Regions from separate parts of the Homo sapiens genome. Here region 2 is linked to region 1. Evidence: fine-mapped expression QTL. A gene starts in region 1. The other region holds a variant in brackets. All regions are shown on one strand. Distances are from middle to middle.

Region 1 (5,386 bases):
AAGCAACTATAGAGCTAATATATTCATAATAGACCCTTGGGAGTCCAGTAAAAGGACCTTCTGAAAACAGAAATGAACTTGGGAGAATTTTGTCAAATTATTTATCACAAACAAATCATCACTAGGATTCAGATTTCCTTCTTCATACTTCTTTACCCCAAACAAATTCTACACTCATTCAAAAGCACTACCAATGCATCAGTTAACCTCTTATGCTGCTAGATGTCAGGGCTACATTCTGTGTACTGTGGGCAGCTGTTTAGCATTCCCTTGAACAATGCTTCTGTTCCAATTAAGCACAATAAAGTACTTAACACAGCACACAGTGGCCAACATAACTTTATGAACAGTTTAGAAAATTTCCTAAGGCTCAAAAATAGGCAATTTCAGCCAGGCGCGGGGCTCACACCTATAATCCCAGCACTTTGGGAGGCCGAGGCGAGCGGATCATGATGTCAGGAGTTCAAGACAAGCCTGGCCAACATGGTGAAATCCCGTCTCTACTAAAAATACAAAAATTAGCTGGGCATAGTGGCGTGTGCCTGTAATCTCAGCTACTCGGGAGGGTGAGGCAGAACTACTTGAACCGGGACCCAGGAGGCGGAGGTTGCAGTGAGCAGAGATCGTGCCACTGCACTCCAGCCTGGGCTATAGAGGGAGACTTTGTCTCAAAAAAAATAAAATAGGCAATTTCAAAATAAATAATTCTGCTGTTAAAGAGCAGTAGGATTTTTCCATTAAAATGTGAATTTAGTAGCACAAGTAATGTTGAAAATTAAAAGCAGCCGGGCAACTTGGCTCACACCTGTAATTCCAGCACTTTGGGAGGCCAACGCGGGCAGATCACTTGAGGTCATGAGTTTGAGACCACCCTGGGCAATATGGTGCAACCCCGTCTCTACTAAAAATACAAAAAATTAGCCGGGCGTGGTGGCGCCTGCCTGTAATCCCAGCTACTCCGGAGGCTGAGGCAGAAAAATCGCTTGAACCCGGGAGGTAAAGGTTGTAGTGAGCCAATATCGCGCCATTGCACTCCAGCCTGGGTGACAGAGTGAGACTGTTTCAAATAAAAAATAAAATAACATTAAATTAAATTAAATTGAAACCTGCAATACACATCGTAAGCCTTGTATAATACTTTCCAATGCTATAAAGGCTGTAAGATAATTCGCCTACTGAAATTCATAAATCAGCTCACATTGACTTCAAGAATCATCATAAGGAAACAAACACTCATCGAATTATAAATGTATATCTCAAAAAGAGAACTCTGGAAAGTGGTAGAATTTGTGTTGTTCCTATGCAAACATCAGGATCTTCAATAACATAATTTGACCTATCATGGCTTCCGTTGTGACCTGAATAATTGTCACGACCCAAAAGGTCAGCCCAACGTTACTGAGACTCAGTATGCAAAACACTACATATCTGAAAAACTCCAAAGTGAAGAATTAACCAAAGCATTTCATTTCATTTACTGCAACTTTAAACAAAACAATCCAATAATCCACTCACACTGTTTAGTGTTTTGTTTAGAAAATATGTCCCACTTGTTATAGAAACCTCCAAATCAAGGAAAACCTTCCCCAAAACCTTAGCATTCTACCGGGATAAGCAAAGCTAACAGGTTTTAGTTATATGCCTGAAAACTAGCCTTCATGAAGGTCGAATGAAAAATCTTTTAAGCTGATGCCATAACTGTTAACTCGACACAGCAAATTTTGGATCCAAGTACAAAATACTGTAAAATTTCCCAGTGACAGTCTGAAAAAGTACCTACAGTGGTGTTCTTTAAACATGCATCATCTACTACAGAATTCACCATTTGACTGGATGTAAACTTTTAAACTAACTTTGAAAACTTTATCTTTTTTTTAGGCAACTGTACAATATTTCAGAGACCTTTAAAGAAAAACTATTTCTAAATTACATGGCTGAGATACTTCCCTTACAATTTCCATCTCGTTTTTCATAGTCTACTTAAACGAATGGGCATCTAACTGCGAAACTCATATTACCCAACTCAGAAAATACGACTTAGTAATGGTGCTTTCTTAACGACACTCAGAAGCCCCCGGCAAGGACGGGTACGCGGGTTAAGACCGCATCACAGGCAGGAAGGGCGGTCGGCACCCTGCTGGCGACAAGGGCCTGGGTCAGGGAAGAGACTCAAGCGAACAGATTCCCAGTAGCAGGTGCGAGACTCTGGCAAGAGGGCAGTCGCCGCGGATTTCGGACAGACAGGAGGATGCTGTCTACTGGACTGTGAGACGCACATAAAGGTCAACCAGCCTCACCTCGGGAGTCCGCTCGGGTGGCTTCTTCCTCAACGCCTGCCTAGCGCCAGGGTCCACGGGTGAGTTCATGGCCACGGCCCGGGTACTCCGCAGCCTGCCCTTAGCAGCCCACGCCACAGTTCATTCACACTAGGTAGCGGGTGCGGTACCTTTCCCCCGCCCCAAGGAGGGAACTTCGCGCCGTAACAAGGTCCGAACTCTAGCAAACAACCCTTCGCAACGCCCGCCTAAGGCCTCTACCCACGCGCGACTGGCCGGAGACAAGTCTGCGCGGGGGCGGGGGAGAGTAAGTGCGCATGCGCAGCACGCACGCGCACGCTAAGAAACGCCCAAGGGAGTAACTCCACTGTGACGTTAAAATTGGGGCGGTGCGAGTAAGTCGTTTCCTGCTGTCGTCGTGAGATTTAAAGACACCTCGCGAGACCTCACCTAAATCAGTCACGGGGTCTGCCTTGGCGTTGTGGTTCCGTCTTCTCCATCCGTTGGAGACACCGGAAACGCGCTGAGGACCTGAGCAAAAATAGCATTTTGGGGCAGAACCGTGGGGAGGCGTTCTGACTGGAGAGAACTGTTGTGCCCAAATCCGGAAGCCCAGGGTGTGGCCAAGTCCGGCTTTGCGCTCTCCTCTGCAACTTCTACTGCCGACTTTGAATATGCGGAAGTAGAAGCCGCCATTCGGCAAAGAAGGAATTCCACGCACACCTCATATCTCTTTAAATAAAACGAGATCTCTTGTGAAAGCTGCCGACAGAGAAGTGCTTGATCTATTCGAAACGGACGTCCTGAGACCAGGGCAGAGAAAGCAAACATTCACGGCCAGGATAGGCAGCCGGTGCCGCGGCCAGCTCACGATTACCTTTGAGTCAAAAAACTAGATTTAGACTGCGTTCTTGTAACTAAATGCCCGGGGCAGCCCTCCCTCAGGCAACTGCGTTTAGGGTTGGGACTCGAGTGGCAACTTTTGCAATACTTTTTACATTCTAGTCTGCTTCCCAACAGACCGAATAAAGCCAGTTTTGTTTCACTGCTCCCTTGGTAAGAAAAACAGACCACCCTTAGGAGCAGCCAGAGAGCTGCTGAGGCCGTTTCAACAATAAGCTCACTGACAATTCCAGAATCCATCGTTCTAGGATACTCCTTACCCTTTCTCATAAGTTCATAGGTAACTAACTTTGGCGACACCACCTTTCCACTGAATTTTAAGCTCCTTGATGGCTGTAACTACATCTAGGTACACCTTGGTATTTCTCACAGCAGTTAGCATAGTTCACTAAATAACAAGGTGATTTATGATTATGACATGCTTTCCAATTAATGACTGCTTCACAGTAATTTTAATGACGTAATAAGAGTTAAAATTATATTTGAAAACAATGAGAGTTCAGGCTACAACACCGTTTCTGGGACCGGCAATGACTTAAGGACTGTTTTCTGTTGGTCCTGGGGCTTGCCCAAACTGGGAGTTTACAACATACTATTAGCATTTCTCTTTTTCAGGTATAGATCAAAAACTTTACCAGCGAAGTGTGGCATAGCCATTGTAGAAATAAAGTAATTGTGGAAAAAATCACAGGATGTTGCAGACGATCCGTTTTCCTCATTTTTTGTACAAATATAACCTCTCAAAGATCTGCCCAGGATCACAAACAAAAGTTAACCCTTCCATTCTTCAAGGATCAATTTTCAGAGTCACATCAATATTTTGAAAGAGGGAGAAAGAACTATAAAGCATGATCACCATGAACTTGAACTTTAGGGGCAAACAGACCTAGAATTTGTGTCTCTAATATTAGACCTCTTCTAGTTAAGTGACTTGAAGTTATTTAACATCTCTGAACTTCATTTTCCTTATGTTAAATGGGAATATAGTAAAGGACCTATTGCTTCAGAATTTTCTTAAGATTACGCGAGAAAATTCACATGAAGCACTTAGTATGTTGCCTTCATTTTCCTTATGTTAAATGGGAATATAGTAAAGGACCTATTGTTTCAGAATTTTCTTAAGATTAAGTGAGAAAATTCACATGAAGCACTTAGTATGTCACATGAAGCACTTAGTAAGATTACGTGAGAAAACTCACGTGAAGCACTTAAGCACTTAGTATGAAGCACTTAGTATGAGAAAATTCACATGAAGCACTTAGTATGCTGCACAATCCGAGCACTCCTTATTATTTCCATTATTTTGCCTCTAGGAAGTGATTTTTTTTTTTTTTTTTTTTGAGACGGAGTTTTTCTCTTGTTGCCCAGGCTGGAGAGCAATGGCGCGACCTCGGCTCACTGCAATGTCCCTTGAACTACTCGGGAGTTCAAGGGATTCTCCTGTCTCAGCCTCCTGAGTAGCTGGGATTACAGGCGCCCGCCACCACGCCCGGCTAATTTTTGTATTTTTAGTAGAAATGGGGTTTCACCATATTGGCCAGGCTGGTCTTGAACTCCTGACCTCAAGTGATCCACTCAATTTGGCCTCCCAAAGTGCTGGGATTATAGGCGTGAGCCCCCGCTCCCGGCCTGGGAAGTGATTCCTCTAAAGTAGAAATTCAACTTTGAATAATTGAATAGATTTTTTTAATACAGTTTTTTTTCACTTATAACAATTCAGAAACACATTTAAGTATTTGTGAAGATGTGGAGCAAGAGGAACTCAAACTGCTGGTTAAGTGCAAGTTGGGAAGTCACTTTTGGCAAAAAAAAAAAAAAAAAGTAATAAAGTTGAAACATAACACACCTTATGACAGCAAGTCCTTTCTTTGATATATGCCCTATAGCAGCAGTCCCCAACGTTTTATGGCACCAGGGACTGGTTTTGTGAAAGACAAATTCTCTATAGGGGTTAGGGGGAGGGTTTCAGTATGGAACTGTTCCAACTCACATCATCAGGCATTATTAGATTCTCATAAGGAGCATGCAGCCTAGAGCCCTCACATGTGCAGTTCATGATAGTGTTCCTGTTCCTAGAGAATCTAATGCCCCTGCTGATCTGACAGGCGGAGCTCAGGCAGTTATGCTTGCTTACCTCCTGCTGTGCGGCTGCTTCCTAACAGGCCATGAACCAGTACCGGCCTGGGGACTGGGGACTGGGGACTGGG
Region 2 (5,386 bases), 21 kb before region 1:
ATCTTACAATGGTTCGACAAGATTTCCTGACTTTACAATGATGCAAAAGCGATATGCATTCAGTGGACACTGAATTATGTTTCTGTCTTGTTTTGCTTTTAGAGACGGGGTCTCACTCTGTCACCCAGGCTGAGTGCAGTGACGGCAATCATAGCTCACTGATGCCTCGATCTCCAGGACTGAAGCAATCCTCCCACGTTGGCCTTCCAAGTGGCTGGGACTACAGGCGTGCACCACCATGCTCAGCTAATTTTTTTTTTTTTTTTTTTTTTTTTGGTGATGACAGCCTGGGAAACGATAATTTGAATATCCATTCAATCATTCTGTTTTTCACCGTTTTCTGTACAGTATTCAATAAATCATACCAGATACACAACACTTTATTATAAAATAGGCTTTGCGTTAGATGATTTTGCCCAACTGTAGGCTAATGTAAGTGTTCTGAGCATGTTTAAGGTAGGCTAAGCTATGATTTTTGGTAGGTAAGGTATATTAAATGCATTTCTGACTTACAAGATTTTCAACTTACCATGGTTGTATTATGATATAACCCCATTGTAAGTCAAGGAATGTCTGTACTACAAACACGGCTGCCTGGGCCCCAACCACTGAGTTAGGTGTAGGCAGGCAGGCACTCACAAAATGTCTATCCTGTGGAAATGTGCTTGTAATTTTTGACAAGACAACTTGTTCTGGTGGCAAACAAGTTCTGAAAATTGTAATACACAAAAGTTAGGTTATGGCAAACAGAACTCCCATAACTTGACTTACTCCATGTGGGTAGGCTAGTGTTACAGGGAACCAGAATTTTCTAAGACTCTCAACTAAACTTATATCATATAATTTTCTCCTTTCTCAAGTTACAGGACATCTTCGGCACATCATTAACAATGCCATGAATATATGAGAAAGAATTAGAAATTAACTTTTCAATGTTAAAGTCTGAAAGAGAATTTCACTCACAAGTTTGAGATATACATGTATCTTCAGTTCTCTGCCTAAAGAGAGACTAATAAGGTTTATCACTTTAAATCTGAAAAGCCCCTCCTCAAAGAGCTTCAAATATTTGTTTGTAATCTCCTTATTTTAAAGGGACAATTTGGACAAATGAACATGTAGTCCTTCACAACATCTGTAATGTTGACTGCATGACCCTGAACTAAAATATCAGCATTATGGCCAGGTGTGGTGGCTCACGCCTATAATCCCAGCACTTTGGGAGGCCCAGGCAGGCAGATCATGAGGTCAGGAGATCAAGACCATCCTGTCTAACACGGTGAAACCCCGTCTCTACTAAACATACAAAGAATTAGCCGGGCATGGTGGCGGGCGCCTACAGTCCCAGCTTCTTGGGAGGCTGAGGCAGGAGAATAGTGTGAACCCAGGAGGCAGGGCTTGCAGTGAGCTGAGATTGCGCCACTGCACTCCAGCCTGGGCGACACAGCGAGACTCCGTGTGTCTGTCTGTCTGTGTGTGACTCTCTCTCTCTCTTCATATATATATATATATGTATGTATGTCAGCATTATTCCTGTCAGGGGTTGACAAACTTTTTCAATAAAGGGCCAAATAGTAAATATTTGTGGCCCAGATGGTTTTTTATCACAACTATTTAGCTCTGCTTTTATAATATGAAAACAGCCATGGACAACAGGTAAATGAATGGGTGTGACTGTTCCAATAAAACTTTACTTACAAAAATAGCTGGTCATATTTTGTTAGCTCCTGAAACATATGGTCAAAAATAGCTACAGTGTGGCCAAGCATGAATGAGCTCCTCTCTGACAACAGACCACCTTATAAGTTTCAGTGGAGTTCTGTCTCCCACCATGAAAGCTGAAAACACCAAATTTTTATTTTTCCAACCTCCCATACAACAAAGGCAGGGGCAAATTATTCAAGTGTTACCAATTAGACATATTCATCCCAGACTTTAAATCAGAAGCTAGTGACACCGAGAAGCAAGAACTGCATAGAATCCGCTTGGGCAGCCAGTGGCTGCAGCAGGGTTGTATTAGTCCATTCTCACACTGCTATAAAGAACTACCCGGCTGGACACAGTGGCTCACACCTGTAATCCCAGCATTTTGGGAGACTGTGGTGGGTGGATCACCTGAGGTCAGGAGTTGGAGATCAGCCTGGTCAACATGGTGAAACCCCATCTCTACTAAAAATACAAAGATTAGCTGAGCGTGGTGGCAGGTGCCTGTAATCCCAGCTACTTGGGAGGCTGAGGCAGGAGAATCGCCTGAACCTGAGGGGCGGAGGTTGCAGCAAGCCAAGATCATGCCACTTCATTTCAGCCTGGGTGACAGAGCAAGACTCTGTCTCAAAA[A/AAAC]AAAAAAAAAAAAAAAAGAAAGAAAGAAAAAGAAAAAGACTACCGGAGCCGCGGTAATTTATAAAGAAAAGAGGTTTGGCTCATGGTCCTGCAGGCTGTACAGGATGCATGCCTGGGAAGGCCTCAGGAAACTTAAAATCATGGTGGAAGGTGAAAGGGAAGCAAGCACATCTCGACATAGCCAGCAGGAGAGAGACAGCAAAGTAGAACAAAAGTGCTACATGCTTTTAAACAACTCAAGATCTCAAGAGAATGAACTCTCACCATCACGAGAACAGCAAGGGGGCAAATCTGCTCCCATAATCCAATCACCTCCCACAGGTCCCTCCCCCATCACTGGGGATTACAATTCAACGTGAGATTTGGGTGGGGACACAGAGCCAAACCATATCAAGGGTCTACAACATACGCAATGGACAGTACAGGTGGTCCACAGTGCAAACTGTGGCACTCACTATTCACTGCTAGTAGCAGTAGTATCTACCAAATCTGTGATAAGGGTCACAGACCCAAGCCTGTTTTTCTAGTATCCCAAGCCTAGCCCCAAGTCTGGTTTTCCAGTATTCCAAGTAATTCTGTAGCTACCCAGAATCCTTTCAGTAAATTATTTCTTTCGATTGGCCAAAATTGGGTTCTGTTGCATGTAAGTAATAACCCTGTGAGATCCTGAACCAGCACAATCAGCATCATTTAGGAACTTTGTAGAAATGTAAATTATCAGGCCTCACCCCAGATCTAGTCAATCAGAATATCTGGGTTGTAGGGACCAGCAGTCTGTGATTTAATAGGTCCTACAGGTGATTCTTCTGCACACTAAAGTTTGAGAACCACTGTTTATAAGTGGGATCTATGTCACTCTGGATTGTCTGACCTATTAATAGCGAAAGACAACAAGCATTAAGATGCCTAGTAAATCCTAGTCCCTTTCTTTGTGTACCTAGTTTGAGGGTCACAAGAATGCTAAGCATTCACAAAACAGAATAAAGAATGGTTGTAGTGGTGAGCTGATTAATTCTTTTTCATATGATGTGGGGGTTATGGCATTTTGTTTACACAGGACAGCATGGAGTTGTGGAGTCTGTAATGCTGAGCTTGGAAAAGGGTTTCTTGGGGCTTTTGTGTCAATTATCTGCAAGATAAGCTTGAGGTACTATATTATCTATTAGGCATAAAGTCACAAATAAAAAAAGAAAGAACCCTGACAGAGTCAGACTGGAAGTCTTACAGACAGTCTTCGGCAGTAAAAAATTTAAATGCTAGATTCAAGGAGGTGCTAATCATTTACGCTGAATGCACTTGAAAGCTGCTCTATGTAGCTTTCAAGAGGGAAGTCGGCTGGGTACAGTGGCTCACACCTATAATCCCAGCACTTTGGGAGGCAGAGTGGGCGGATTACTTGAGGTAAGGAGTTCACGACCAGCCTGGCCAACATGGCAAAACCCCGTCTCTACTAAAAATACAAAAAAATTAGCTGGGCATGGTGGCGCACACCTGTAGTCCCAGCTACTTGGGAGGCTGAGGCATGAGAATTGCTTGAACCCGGGCACGGAGGCTGCAGTGAGCGGAGATCACACCACTGTACTCCAGCCCGGGCAACAGAGCAAAACCCTGTCTCAATTAAAAAAAAAAAGAGGGAAGTCATGAGAAGGGTGGGAAAACTATCCACCTGGCATATCCTGACATCCCAGATCAGTAACATCTGATTCAGCACTAGTTCTGTAACTGCAACAAAATACTGCAGAAATTGTCCAGGGGTATTAGAAAAACAAGTACCAGCTCAGGATTAGGGAATAAAATAATGGGTTCTACCTAGGGGCGAAAAAAAAAGAAGAAGAAGGTGAGGAAGTGGTGATGACTTGGTACTTCCTAAAACAGATAAGCTACACCCTCTCAGCCAGTAGTTTTTATAGCGAAGGTGGGATAAGCTGAGGTGGGTGGACAGCTGCCATTGTATAACAAGACAACTCTTGTATACCCTTTAAACAATTCTTACTTACAGCATTCATTGCAGGTATATTCTGTGGATTTTCAATTTAGTTGTTAAATGAAAATAAACTCATATTTGGAGCACTGTATAAACAAGTAATTACTAATTTAAACATATATTTCTAATTAAGCAGGTTGGAATTTTTTCCCCTTCCTTAGTTTACAATGTTATGCCAAGCAACTGTGCTGCTCTCGGAAACTCCATTTCCCAATTCTCCTCACTGTCCTTCTACAGGTGTTTAGAAAATCAACCAAAACTTGGAAAACTCAAACTGGGATGCTTAAAAAATTTTTGCATTTTTCTGGTTCTTAAAGTTTAAAACAAGTGAATTTCTTACCTATGATACACTTAATTCATCACATACAACGTTTTTTCTCTGACACAGGCTCTCGCTATGTTGCCCAGGCTGGAGTACAGTGGCACAATCACGACTCACTGCAGCCTCAACCTCCCAGGCTCAAGTGATCCTCCCTCCTGAGACTCTCGAGTGTGCCACCACCCCCAGCTTTTTTTTTTTCCTTTGTAGAGACAAGGTCTATGTTGCCTAGGATGGTCTTGAACTAAGCTCAAAGGATCCTCCTACCTTGGCCTTCCAAAGTGCTGGGATTATAGGTGTGAGTCACCGCACCCAGGCACACAAAACTTTCAATAAAACATCATTATCCAAAACTTTCATTAACCAAGATATTTTATTCATTCTCTTCTTAACCTAGAAAATAAATCTATCCCAGGAATTTTAACAAAGAAAAATGTCCCAGGATAGATCCTAAGGTCAGCACAAATTCAACTGTATCATACATACATTCTGCAGCTATGGTTCTATAATGAAAAGTTATGCTGAGGAATCTTCTACAAATCATTTGGAAGGCAGTCTAACAATGTGGAAGACAGCTGGATGCAGTGGCAGATGCCTGCAGTCCCAGCTACTCAGGAGGCTGAGGCAGGAGGGATCACTTGAGCCCAGAAGTAGGAGGCCAATCTGGGCAATGTGGAGATACTTGGTCTCTAAAAAAACAGCACCACACACACACACACAAAAAAAAACCCAATTTGGACTCTGGAGAC

The links.
Region 2: its variant is fine-mapped to the expression of RAPGEF6 in whole blood (INTERVAL, PIP above 0.99).

Annotation. Positions count from the first base shown.
Region 1 is chr5:131,632,665-131,638,050 of GRCh38, forward strand. RAPGEF6 (Rap guanine nucleotide exchange factor 6) reads right to left here and starts at 2,565. Exons shown (of 28, transcript NM_016340.6): 1 at 2,298-2,565. The coding sequence starts at 2,366. RefSeq lists enhancers at 1,755-2,337, 2,285-2,374, 2,467-3,666, 2,675-2,924, 2,935-3,134.
Region 2 is chr5:131,611,952-131,617,337 of GRCh38, forward strand. The region is part of intron 1 of RAPGEF6 (Rap guanine nucleotide exchange factor 6); the gene reads right to left. Among named protein-coding and RNA genes, the nearest start is that of RAPGEF6, 21 kb to the right of the region's middle. The variant A/AAAC (reference allele first, on the strand shown) is at 2,335.